Linked DNA regions of Homo sapiens. The protein of the gene in region 1 interacts with the protein of each later gene in a biochemical or structural test. Each region holds a gene or a part of one and is shown in the gene's direction. Other genes may lie near its edges.

Evidence for each region.
Region 2: the proteins of FCN2 (region 1) and DMBT1 form a complex in vitro, tested with the Homo sapiens proteins (one study listed by IntAct).

Annotation. Positions count from the first base shown.
Region 1 is NC_000009.12:134,883,690-134,888,187, forward strand, and holds the end of FCN2 (ficolin-2 isoform a precursor), read left to right. Parts: intron 1-1,050; coding exon 1,051-1,083; intron 1,084-1,549; coding exon 1,550-1,677; intron 1,678-2,078; coding exon 2,079-2,208; intron 2,209-2,740; coding exon 2,741-2,875; intron 2,876-3,478; coding exon 3,479-3,726; 3' UTR 3,727-3,834; downstream 3,835-4,498.
Region 2 is NC_000010.11:122,555,971-122,563,857, forward strand, and holds the start of DMBT1 (scavenger receptor cysteine-rich domain-containing protein DMBT1 isoform e precursor), read left to right. Parts: upstream 1-4,783; 5' UTR 4,784-4,800; coding exon 4,801-4,861; intron 4,862-7,887.

The DNA of each region.
Region 1 (4,498 bases):
GGTTCTTGGGGTGTGTGTTGGGGGAGGGGTTCCCGGTGGGCAGGCTGTGGGGAGGTGTTATCAGCAGGGAGGGAGGAGCTGTCAATATGGGGGAGAGATTCTGGGATGGGGGAGAGGTTCTGATTATTCGGGGAGGGACTTTTAGTGTGGGGAGGGGTTCTTAGTGGGGGGGCTGTCTGTATGGGGGGGTTCTCAGGTAGGGGAAGGTTTTCAGTGCAGGAGCATCTGCCCTGTGGGTGGGCCTGAGACCAAATCCTGTCCCTCTAATGTGGAAGTGGTCTTGAGAGGGTGGGGGGGGATTGTCTGCCCACCTCTCTAAGCCTCACTCAGTCCTGGCCTCTGTCCCCTGAGCATGAGGCCCTGTCTTGTCCCCTCCTCCTGACTCTGCTTGAAAACCAGGATCAGCCCCGGATGGCTTGGAGAACCATGCCAACAAGTTCCAAACACAGAATTAGTGGAAATTCTCTGCTTTAAAACAAAGAATTTTCTGATATATTTTCTTGAGGAATAAATTTTGAGGAATCGGAGAAATACGCAGTAGGAAATTGAAGCTCCCTTTACTCACTCACCTTTACCCACAGACCTACTCAGAATAAGACCACCCTACACTCACCAAACCCCAGGCTCAGTCATGGGTTGTGTCTAAACATAAAATACGCAGGTTTGGTGCCCACACCGCAAACAACACTCCCCACATCATATTACTGTGTCCACCAAGATGGGCTGTTTGCAGGCCTTGGGGCCTCAGGAGAAGCCTGAAGATCCAGGCTTCCTTTAGTTGGCATGTGGAGGCCTCAGCAGTCTCTGGGATGGTGGCCTCTGCTTCCCCAGGAACCTCTGAAAGGGGTGCATGTGGTGGAGGGGCCAGTGTAGGCATCCCTCGAGGGAAAGAAAAATTTGGTCAACAGAACCAGGGTCAGGGACTCCTTGGCTGGACCCATACCATCACCTCCTGGGGAGGCCCAGAAAATGGTGTCCGCGGACCAATGGGGGCTGAAGGGCTCTGATTTCCAAACTGTGACACGTGTGTCCTCTCTCATCCATGAACAGGAGCACCTGGGGAGCCCCAGCCGTGCCTGACAGGTGACTGACCACCCCCACACTCCTCCCACGGCTTGTGGCTGCCCTTGGCTGGAAGTCCAGGGTCATACGACGCCATTGCCAGAATGAAGTGACAAATATGAACAGAAGAAAATGGTTGCTTGCCCGTTTCCTTGTCCCCTAATTATTCAAGGAAGTGACAAATATTGTCCAGACAACTTACATACACTCCATGGCAATTTTTTTCTATTTATAATCTACGCCAGAAGGCCGGGTGCCCAGGAGCTGAAGGTGGGGGTGACACTGGGAGGTGGGAGGGCCAGGCCAACTGGCTGCGGCCATCACAGCTGCGTGGCCCTGGGGGCCGTGTCCCTGTCCAGGCCTCAGAGTCCCGCTCTGTTCATACAGACGCCTATGGCCCTGCTTCTTCCTCCCAGGCCTCCCTCCTACTGCCTGTGCCCTGCCCAGGGCTCCTGTCCTGCAGCCATTCCCCGGGTTCCCTTCCCAGGCCCGCGTACCTGCAAGGACCTGCTAGACCGAGGGCACTTCCTGAGCGGCTGGCACACCATCTACCTGCCCGACTGCCGGCCCCTGACTGTGCTCTGTGACATGGACACGGACGGAGGGGGCTGGACCGTGAGTGTGGGGCTGGGCAGAGGCGGTCAGCCTGGGAGTCCCGGAGGCCAGGCTGCACACCTGGTGGGAGAACACACTCTGGAATTCTCTATTCTCCTGGTCGGGGACAGTCAGAGATGATGGGGGAGATGACCGGTGGGTAAAAGTCCAGGCCTTTGGGGGAGGCTGGGAGAGGTTGGGTGCTCTCCTGCTGTGTGGCTTGGGGCTTGTTGCCTCCCCTCTCTGAGCCCCCATTTCCTCCTTCATCCTGTGGAGTCTGTGAGGAGAACAGGTGGGCGTGCTGGTGACCCCGCCTGTGATGCTCTGCCAACTACAAATGCTGCTCCTCTGGAGGGCGGGTCCCCCGTGCTGTGGGACGTCGGCCTGGCCCCCCCGGCTCCTGTCCCCTGGCTTCTCCACAGGTTTTCCAGCGGAGGGTGGATGGCTCTGTGGACTTCTACCGGGACTGGGCCACGTACAAGCAGGGCTTCGGCAGTCGGCTGGGGGAGTTCTGGCTGGGGAATGACAACATCCACGCCCTGACCGCCCAGGGTAGGGCCGCTGCTGGGGCTTGGGGGTCGGGGGCCCTGAATGGGGGTGCCCCTGCCTCTTGGGCCTGGGCTGCCTGGAACACAAGAGCCTCTTGGCCCACAGGGGATTGGGCCCTGAGCACACTCAGGGTGGCACTGGGACCTCCGAGGGCTTCGTCCCTGCTGCAGGCTCTGGCAGCATCGGGACGGGAGAGGGTCAGAGCTCTGGGATGAAGGCCTCTTCAGGTCTTGGCCCCACTGGCATCTCAGGTCCTGAGAGGGGAAGGAGGGACACAGTGGCCCCATAGTGGAGTTTGGGCCCAACCCCAACTCTGCCTCTAATCCGCTAGGATTTGGGAGTCAAGAGTCTTGCCCTGCTGCTCAGCACACCCTGCCGGGTCAGAGCTACACAGGCCCCGGGGATGCTGCGGTGCTCTCCGCCCTCTGCCTCCATGGAGTCCAGACCTCCTTCCAGGCCCTGCCCCAGATCCCCAGCTCCCATGTCTAAAGGTAGAGAGCCCTTCCGCTGAGACCCTGAAACCTTTCTCTAACAGGAACCAGCGAGCTCCGTGTAGACCTGGTGGACTTTGAGGACAACTACCAGTTTGCTAAGTACAGATCATTCAAGGTGGCCGACGAGGCGGAGAAGTACAATCTGGTCCTGGGGGCCTTCGTGGAGGGCAGTGCGGGTGAGTGTCTGCTTGGGGCTGTGTGGCCTGGGCTTCTGAGGGGGGTTTGGGAAGTGGAGAGAGCGTGCTCAGTGTCCTGGTAGCCTTGTGGAAGAGGCCTCACCTCTCTGAGCCAATTCGTCCATCTCTACATGCAGACACTAACATCTGTGCTCTGTGTAGCATGGGGGTCATGGGACACATCAGTGTATGACTGCAGAAATCCCAGCAAGGGCATCTGGTAGGAAGGAAGTCTCTGCAGAGCAGGGACCTATGCACGGTGACAGCAGCTGATATCTCTGCGGGGCATGGCTGGAAGGGGTCTGCCATGATGGAATCCAGAGTAGAGAATGATGATCCTGACCCCTGCCTCCTGTTCTTCTGTGAAATAAACATAGTACACATTAGGTGGCAGGGCTAGACCTAAAGACAATTTGCCAAGACCACTGCCAACAGCAGGGCAGTATTCACTGGAGTCATGGATTGCACTTCTTGGATTGTGCAGTGCACAACCTGCCTAACCATACATGGAGGACACACCAGGCCAGGCCTCAGGTATAAAGACTTATACTGTCTGTAATGATGTTACTGCCTGTAACGATGCTCACATTTCCTCCTGCACAGGAGATTCCCTGACGTTCCACAACAACCAGTCCTTCTCCACCAAAGACCAGGACAATGATCTTAACACCGGAAATTGTGCTGTGATGTTTCAGGGAGCTTGGTGGTACAAAAACTGCCATGTGTCAAACCTGAATGGTCGCTACCTCAGGGGGACTCATGGCAGCTTTGCAAATGGCATCAACTGGAAGTCGGGGAAAGGATACAATTATAGCTACAAGGTGTCAGAGATGAAGGTGCGACCTGCCTAGCCCAGGCCGGCCTCAGGGTCAGGACGCCTCCACACATAGTTGGTTGGGGGGTAGGGTTGGGAGCTTGGCCCTACGGTTTGTAAAAGAAACACATGTCGTGATTCTAAATTGGGTTTGTCTTGCTGTGCGGAAGAGGTTCAAATCCAGCTCTGTTTCCGCAATCAACCCTTTCAGATTTGTGACATTAACTCACCTCAAACCTCTGTCTTTCCTTGACAATGAGTAAGAATGTGTTCCTGACCATGCCAGCAGGAACCTTCCTTAAGGACAAATACAAGACTTTGAAGCTGCGATGGGCTCAGAGTGCAGCCCTGCTCAGGTCCCTGGGCAGGCTAAACGCCTTCCTGGGGCTCGACCATCTGGGCTTCTCTGTGAGCTGGATGGCAGGGAAGTCAGAAGGCACATTGGAGAGGAAGTTTCTCTTGCACTCAGAGATGCCGTTGCCTGTCCAAGGCCCCCAGCCTCGTAGCCGCAGCTCTGCTCACTCTCCCCCGTCACCCAGGCTTCCTGCCGCCTGCTGTCCTGGGTATTCGTGGGATCTGCTCGCTACTTCCTCACAAGCCGAAGCAAGAGTGGCAGTGTGCCTGTGACTCCCTCATCAAAACGGAGAGAGTGGTTACATGAGGCAGGTGTGAGGGACCCGAGCACTCCTGAGGAGGGAAGAACACTCCTCTTGGCCATGAGTGTCCATCCCAAAGCTGCCCTGCAGCCTAGCCCAGTGCAGATTGAATCAGAAAGCCAAAGCCCCTTCCACCCGCTTCTCTCAGGCAAG
Region 2 (7,887 bases), on another chromosome or scaffold:
AAGTGATTCTTCTGCCTCAGCCTCCTGAGTAGCTGGGACTACAGGCATGTGCCACATTCCCAGCTAATTTTTTAGTATTTTTAGTAGAGACAGGGTTCGCCATGTTGGCCAGGCTGGTCACAAACTCAAGTGATCCACCCACCTTGGCCTCCCAAAGTGCTGGGATTACAGGCATGAGCCACCGTGCCTGGCCTGAATGCAGATATTTCTTGAGCGTCTACTACTATGTGTGAAGCATTGTTCTAGGTTCTGAGTATACAGCAATGGATAAAACAGACAAAAATCCCACCTTGTATAGCTTGCATTTTAGTCAGAGCAGACAGGCAAAAGAATAAAGAAGTGAAATAGAAGGTGGCCAGATGGTGAGGAGTGCCGTGGGGAGAGGATGGGAGTGTTAGGGAGTGCTGGGGAGGGGCAGTCGGTAAGGCTGCATGGAGGCGGTGCTATGTGAGAAAATCTCTGGAGGAGGGGAAGGAGTGAGTCTCCAGACATTTGGGGAAAAAGTCTTCAGGCACAGGGAGCAGCAAGTGCAAAGGCCCTGGGGCTGGATGATGGTTACAGGGGGCAAGGGGGAGAGAGAGGCAGGGGTATCTTGTGCAGGGCCTTATAAACCATGGGAGGGCTTTGAGCCTTACTCTGAGCAAGATGGGAGGCATGCAATGGGATTTCTGTGTGTCAGGGGTCCCTAGAGGGCTGTGTTTGTTGCTGGAAGATTCCGCGGTTGGATGGCATCCTGATGAACGTGGAGCTCATCTGTCCTTCAGATGGGGGGCAGCAGCTGCCGTGAGTGCTGTCCTGGACATGGTCTCAGCTCTGTGTGTCATTTCCCTTCTCTGGACCTCATCGTCCCCAGCTGGAGGCTGAGTGGTGGAGGAGAACTGGCTCGTCACCAGCCCCCGTTTAACCACAAGACTTCTTTCTGGGGACCCCTGGACAGCATGGGTGAGCCACTCACAATCCCCACCTTCAAAGCCATTGCCTGCTGAGCACCTGCTCTGCTGGGGCACTGGGATCACAGAGGGGCAGCAGGAGACAACGGGTCTCAGCTTGATCCTCAAAGCCCAGCAAGGAGGTGTGGGGCAGTGGGGGGTGGGGGGAGTGAGTGAAGGAGGGTAGGAAGGGGTCCCCTTATAACCCGATTGGGAAGACCGGCTCTCTGAGCAACAAAAATGAGCGACATTATAAATATCAGACATACAATGTCAAAAGATTGTTACAACGGTAACGATGACCAGCAATTATGGTGTGCTACTCAATGAGGGTAAAATTAGAGTTTGGGGTCAGACTGACACCTGAAGGGGAGCCCTGGTCACACAGATTACAGGATTCAGGGACTGGAAGGCAAACAGCAGCAGCCGGAAAGTGCTACAGCCCCGACCCTTCCCACCAGGCTCCCCGTCCTTCTGTCCCCCTCGTCTGTCTGTCAGGTCACAGGGCTCCTGGTTCAGAAATCAGAGACCCCTCAGAGGTGGGAGGTGGGAGGGGCCCTGGGCTGCCTCCCTGATCTCCGTCTTCCTCTGGCTTCCCAGGGCACTGGTCTGTGGGTAGAAAGAATCTTTAGAAGAAGGAGAACAACGGGCTGTTTTGGGAAGTCTGCCTGGGACCCCAGCTCAGCTTCGTGGCAGGGATGTGTGCCTGGCAGCCCCAGGGGCCCTGCTGGGCCTCTCAGTGCCCTGTCTTATGAAGGGAGGTCTTGGCTTCCCACAGGTAATCCTCAGCTCTGACGGCAGGTGGCCCTAGGGGAGGGGCCTGGAAGGGGACTCCCTCACCACACTCGGGAGCATTCCACTGGCCTGTTTTATGTTTTGGGGCTTCCCCATGAATTCCAATTTAGGAAAGGATTCTGTAGCTTTAAAAAAAAAAGCCATACATGGCCGGGCGCGGTGACTCATGCCTGTAATCTCAGAACTTTGAGAGGCCGAGGCAGGCAGATCGCAAGGTCAAGAGATCGACACCATCCTGGCCAACATGGTGAAACCCTGTCTCTACTAAAAATACAAAAGTTAGCTGGGTGTGGTGATGCACGCCTGTAGTTCCAGCTACTCGGGAGGCTGAGGCAGGAGAATCGCTTGAACTTGGGAGGCGGAGGTTGTAGTGAGCCGAGATTGCACCACTGCACTCCAGCCTGGGCGACAGAACAAGACTCCGTCTTAAAATAAATAAGTAAATAAATAAATAAATGGCCACATATGATCCAGGGGGCTCTTCCCCATAATGACCAGTCCTCTGGTGCTGGGATTTAGGGGCTTGGTCCCACCTCCTGGAGTGTGCTGTGGGGGTGCCGCTGGCTTAATTGCCTGGGGAAGGTGCTTTGCAAATGGGGCCCGGGCGCCGAGTCTCTGAGCTTTAATGGGCTTATCTTGCTTCCTGTTGTTCTTCATGGCAGTTCTGGGGTGAATAAAATGGAACTTTGTGGTTGTGGTCTTCCAACCCCTGCTGTTTAAGCAGATGCTTCTAACCAGTAGGAAGGGGAAGATGAGGGTCCTCTGGCAGGGGCTGCTGCTGGAGGAGGTTGTCCCCCTGAACCCTTCTCTTAGTCCAAGGAAAGACCTCCCTAAATGGTGTCTTATGAGCCACAAAATGGCCTTGGGACAAGATGAGGCACCTGACGGTGAAGGCTGAGGTCCCACACGGTGTTGGCAGGTGGCCCTCAAGCCCATTGTCTTCTGCCCGCATGCCCAGGACCGCCACATCCTTCCTGTTCCACTGACGTCACCCATTTCCCACCTGGGATGCCTACCTGGGCTGGCTTTGAAATGACAGCTAGGCTTCACCACTTCCTTCTTCCTGGTGTCTCCTGAACAAAAAGCTCACAAACCTTATTTTCTCAGGATCTTTTCTGCTAACCACCATGGGCAAAAGATGCAGTCAAAACAACAAAAACGGGGAGGTTACGCAGTTCAGAAAATCCCACACATTCTCAAGAAGGGTGTCCCCGCCAAGCTGAGAGATACCTGGGACATCATGCTTTCCTGGAGGGGAAGGCTCCCTGCCCCCATTCCTGTACAGCCGGGAGAGTCGCTCCTGTTCGTCATCCCATCTTCTCGCTCTCATTTGCTGGGCTGACCTCTGCTGGTATTTCAAGACTGTTTGGTGCCACCCTCTCTGAGAGATGGCCTCCCTCATCTGATTTAGATGCTTTTCTTTACCTTCTCATAGCAGCTTGTACTAATACTTGCTACCCCCTGTTGAAATTGTCACCAGGCAGGTCTGTCTCTAAGACCAGACAGTCTGCTTTTGTCTTGGAAGGACACTTATTACCCCTTCCTGTTCACAGGTATTTAGTATTCTTACCATCATCTTTCCCTGCTGTGCTCCCGGCAGACAATTCTAATCTGTCATGACACTCTGATGATCCCAGACCCAGCTGCATTATCATTCTCAGTCCAACACTCCAGGAACCAAGGGATCACAATCCACTTCTAAGAGGAATCCAGCATGTGCCTGGTCTTGGGCATTCCCTGGTAGGTGAGTAAACCTGTTCTCTCGTCACCCAGTGCTTATCAGTTGCTGATCTGGCAGTAGGAGGATGAAACACAGTGAGCCTATTCTGTGTTCCTGTTCTACTCAAGGGGTGAAGAGGCACCTGGAAACAACAGGAAGAGTTGTAGGATTAAAAAGGACATCCAAGATTAAATGTAACTTTCATCTGGATGAAGCCAAAGGCAGACTTCCAGCCCTAAATTCTGACTGGTGGCTGACACAGGACATGGGTTCATGGTACCCTTCTAGAATGCAGCATAGACTACTGATGAACAGTGCATGGCAAAGAAGCCAAGTGTCATTTCATGGCCTCAGCCTCTCAGCTGAGAAGCAGGGCACAGCTCACCCAGGCTAGGAAAACAGAGGCAAGTCCTGGAAAGCTGTCTGCTTTTAACCAAGAGTTACTGGCCATCAAGTGTCTTGGTTAAAAAATAAGTGTCAGGCAACCTTCTTGGTAGAGTGTGTTGGGGGGCATTATCAGAGTCTGGTAATGACTTCTGAGGGTCCCAAAGAGTGAAGTGATATTTACATAGCAAATCCAAGGAGGGGGATTGTGTGCAATATAGGTGGAGGTGGGGGCAGGTTTTGTGGGTTTGCCAAGCTCCAAGGGTCATACAATGTGCATGTCAAGGACAAGAAATCAAAGCCATGTGAAATGGTTGGAGGTGGTTCAGTTTGAGGTCATGTGTTTCTCAGCTCCTGTTGTGGAATTAGTGTGAGACCCAGAAGACTGTGGCCAAAGCTATTATGGACCCATGGTCTCCGTGGAATCATCCCTCATGACTTCTGCTCTCTGATCACATCCACACTCATGTCATCCTCGTTCTTCCAAGGTGAGGTTACTAGTACTGCACAGGGGCTGATGAGAGCATGTCCTGCCAGGAAAAACCATCCCAGAGATGCTTTCCCCCTTGGCACTGTGTCCTGTATTTGCTCAGCAGCCCACATCCTGTTCTTCCCCAAACCTTGGGGCAGACTTCCCACAGGTGAATTTGAACTCCCCAAGATTAAAATCAAGCCCGTATTCAGGAAACACTTGGGAGTCCTTGAGGTTCACCGAGAGGGAAGTTGGAAATTTTTCACTTATGTCAGTGCGTTTGCAGTTGGGCAACAGCCAGATTGTTCATATGGCAATCAATCAAACACACCTAAGTTTTTTCCACATATTAGCCATCGACTGTTAGCAAAAGCCCTCACTTCCTTTATATTGATTTATAGCAGCAGTAGAAATATACCACCCTAGAGGACACACCTCCTTTTAGCTAGGTACCTATAAATGTCCAGGATTTTCTATTCAATTGAGAAGAACCCAGCAAAATGGGGATCTCCACAGTCATCCTTGAAATGTGTCTTTTATGGGGACAAGTTCTATCTACAGGTATTACGTTTAATTATTATATTCATTAATTTCTCTCCTGCAGACCCAATCATGGCAAATTATATCTACTACTTTCCATTACAAGGGAAGTTTTATATCAAAGAGTGGGTAGCACTTTGCTGATAATTGTAATTGTTTGCAGGTATTCAGGAGGAATGGCTCTTTTTTGTTTTATTTCTGGCTGAGAAATATAAATGGTTGTAGTTAGAAAAAGCCAGTCATTAAGTCAATGTTTTCAGTAAGTCATTCAACTAAAGGAATGATTGATTTGTCTTAGAAAAATCCCTGAAGTTTAGGAAAGGTGGATGTGTATTATTAAGAGGCCCTTAAACTTTGCAACAATTGGTTAAACACACAATTTGTGTGCTATGAAAACGGGCAGAAAGGATTCCCACTGCAAATGCCCTTTATGTGGCTTCTTTCTACAGGTGTGTCTGGCTTGATGGCTAATATTTGCCGAGCAAAATCAGGTCAAGTAATTGAGCGCAGACAAGATCATTAAGATTCCAAGTTTGTCTTGGAATTCCAAGTTTCTCTGTCATGCACAGCTTTAAACAAACACTTGAAGCCCAGTCACTCAAGCATAGCTGTATGTTCTTAGAGAGTCAGATGATAAACGTGAGAGAGCCGTCGGTAGCGCACTCTGATTGCTGCATCTCAATGGCATTTTGCAGAGATACTAGAGGAACAAGTGATTCTCAGTTTGCCTATTTTGTCTCTCTCTTCCTGTCTCTCTGCCTCTCTCTCTCTCTCTTTCTCTCTTATCTATTGTGTAGTTATTATCATCTTTTCTCTCCCCTCTCTCTCCCTCTGTTTCTGTCTGTCTGTCTGTGTTTCTCTCTCTCTCTGTATCTTTCTCTTTTTCCCATCTTTTGGGCAGATATCACCTTTTCTTCCTCCTCCTCCCTCTGTTTCTGCCTCTGCCTTTCTCTCCCTGCCCCCCTCACTGTATCTTCCTGTCTTTCTCATCTATCAGGCAGTTATTACCTTTCCTCCCTCCCTCCTCCTCCTTCTCTGTTTCTCTCTCCATCTCTCTTTCTCTTTATTGGGCAGCTATTATCACCTTTCTCTCTGTCTCTGTCTCTCTTTCTCTTCAACTATTGGGCAACTATTATCACCTTTCCTCTCTCTCTCTATCTGTTTCTCTTCATCTGTCAGGCAGCTATTATCACCTTCCCTCCCCCTCTCTTTTTCTCTCTCACTCTTTCTCATCATCTATTGGGCAGCTCTTATCACTTTTCCTCCCTATTTCTCTCTCTCTCTCTCCCTTTGTTTCTATCTTCTTTCTACCTTCCTTCCATCCCTTTTTCTTTCTCTCCCTCTCTTTATTCATTTCTTTCTTCCTTCTTCTCTTTTATCTTTCCTACTGCCTTTTTTTTCTTTTATGTCATCTTTTGCTAGATTTATGAATTTCAGGATACAGGGTAAAAATCACCTAATTTTCAGGTAACTTCTGGAACTGTCACTCTCCCCCTAGGCTCAGTGGGGGAAGCTTTGAAGATTAAGGTTCATCTGGTTGGTTGCTTTCATGAAAGCAGCACCCCCAAACCCAGCCCTCCCACCCAGGTGGTAGGGAGCAGGCCCACCCCCTGTGATGAGTGTGTGGAGGGACTGGGGGCCACCAGGCCCAGGACCTCAGGGGAGTGGAGACTGGGCATCCTCATCCTGCCTCCATCAGAAGCATCTGAAACTGGGAGGCTGCGTCCTCAGCCCCAGCTCTTGTCAGTACCGAGTTCACCCTCCAGATTGTCTCTGAACCATGACATGGAATTCACATCAGCCACTGTAGACAGGGAGTGAATTGCCTCGTCTTTATCTACAAAGAAACAACAGGCAGCAGTGCTCTTGGATTGAGGACATTTGTAGTTTGCCCATGATGTTATGTGCATGCATATGGACAGACATGCACACATGTGCATGCATGCCTGTGTTTGCCATTCAGAGGTGGGAATTCATGCTCTCTGAAGTGGACCTGTATTCTCTTATTTAAATCTTCTAACATTGCTGAAGTTAGGAACAATTATTTCCACATTTCAGATGGGGAAACTGAGGCTCAGAAAGGTTATTGGCTTGTCCAAAGACAGCACTGGTGAGTGGCTGGGTTAGGGCTTGAATCTGGATCAAATTCACTAGCATTCAGATGACAGCTCTGGCCCACTGGCCCTTGCTGCTCCTTGCAGGGAACTGAGGTGATGAACTGAACTGTGGCATCTAACTCAGTGCTTGGAGCCTGACCACAGAGCTTTGCGCTGGAAGTACCGAGGTGGCAGGCACCTGTCAGCTCTGGTCTTCATGCAAACTCTTGAGAAAAACTCAGTATGCCCAGGTTTGTGCTGGGCAGGAAAGGCTGTGGTACCCACTGCTAGCCCCAGCAATGCCCCTCCTCTGCCACTTGCCTGCTGTGGATCCTCTGTGACCCTCAGTTTACTCATTTATAAATGGAGGTTATGTTCCAACCCATGCAGTATCTGGCACATAGACAGAGCCTCAGAACCATTTAGTGTTACTACTCTAGACATTTTCCTCATGTTTTATCCAAAAGCAGCTTCCTAAAAGTAATGTGAGCTCTTGGATTGGATCCTGCAACAGAAAATGAAAAACTGGTGAAATCCAGATAAAGCCTGGAGTAAACTTAGTAGGAAGGTACCAGTGTTTGTTAGCATGAGAATCACTTGAACTCAGGAGGCAGAGGTTGCCGTGAGCCGAGATTGTGCCACTGCACTCCAGCCTGGGTGACAGAGTGAGACTCTGTCTCAAAAAAAAAAATTAATAAATCATTTTCCAGAAGTGATTCTTCTCCCTTCAGGCAATTTACCACCATTCCCACAATGGCAGCTGGAGTAACCTACAGCTATGTGGTTGATTCTTGGAAGACTACAGATTGGTCTCAGTATGTGCAGAAGGGTCTATTCAAAATGTGTGGACACAGCAGAACCAGGAACAACTTCAATGTGGTGTTCCATGCTGTGGATGAGCCTTGTCAAGGCTCTGGCTGGATGAGTTCGACTGCCATGGGATTAGGCAGG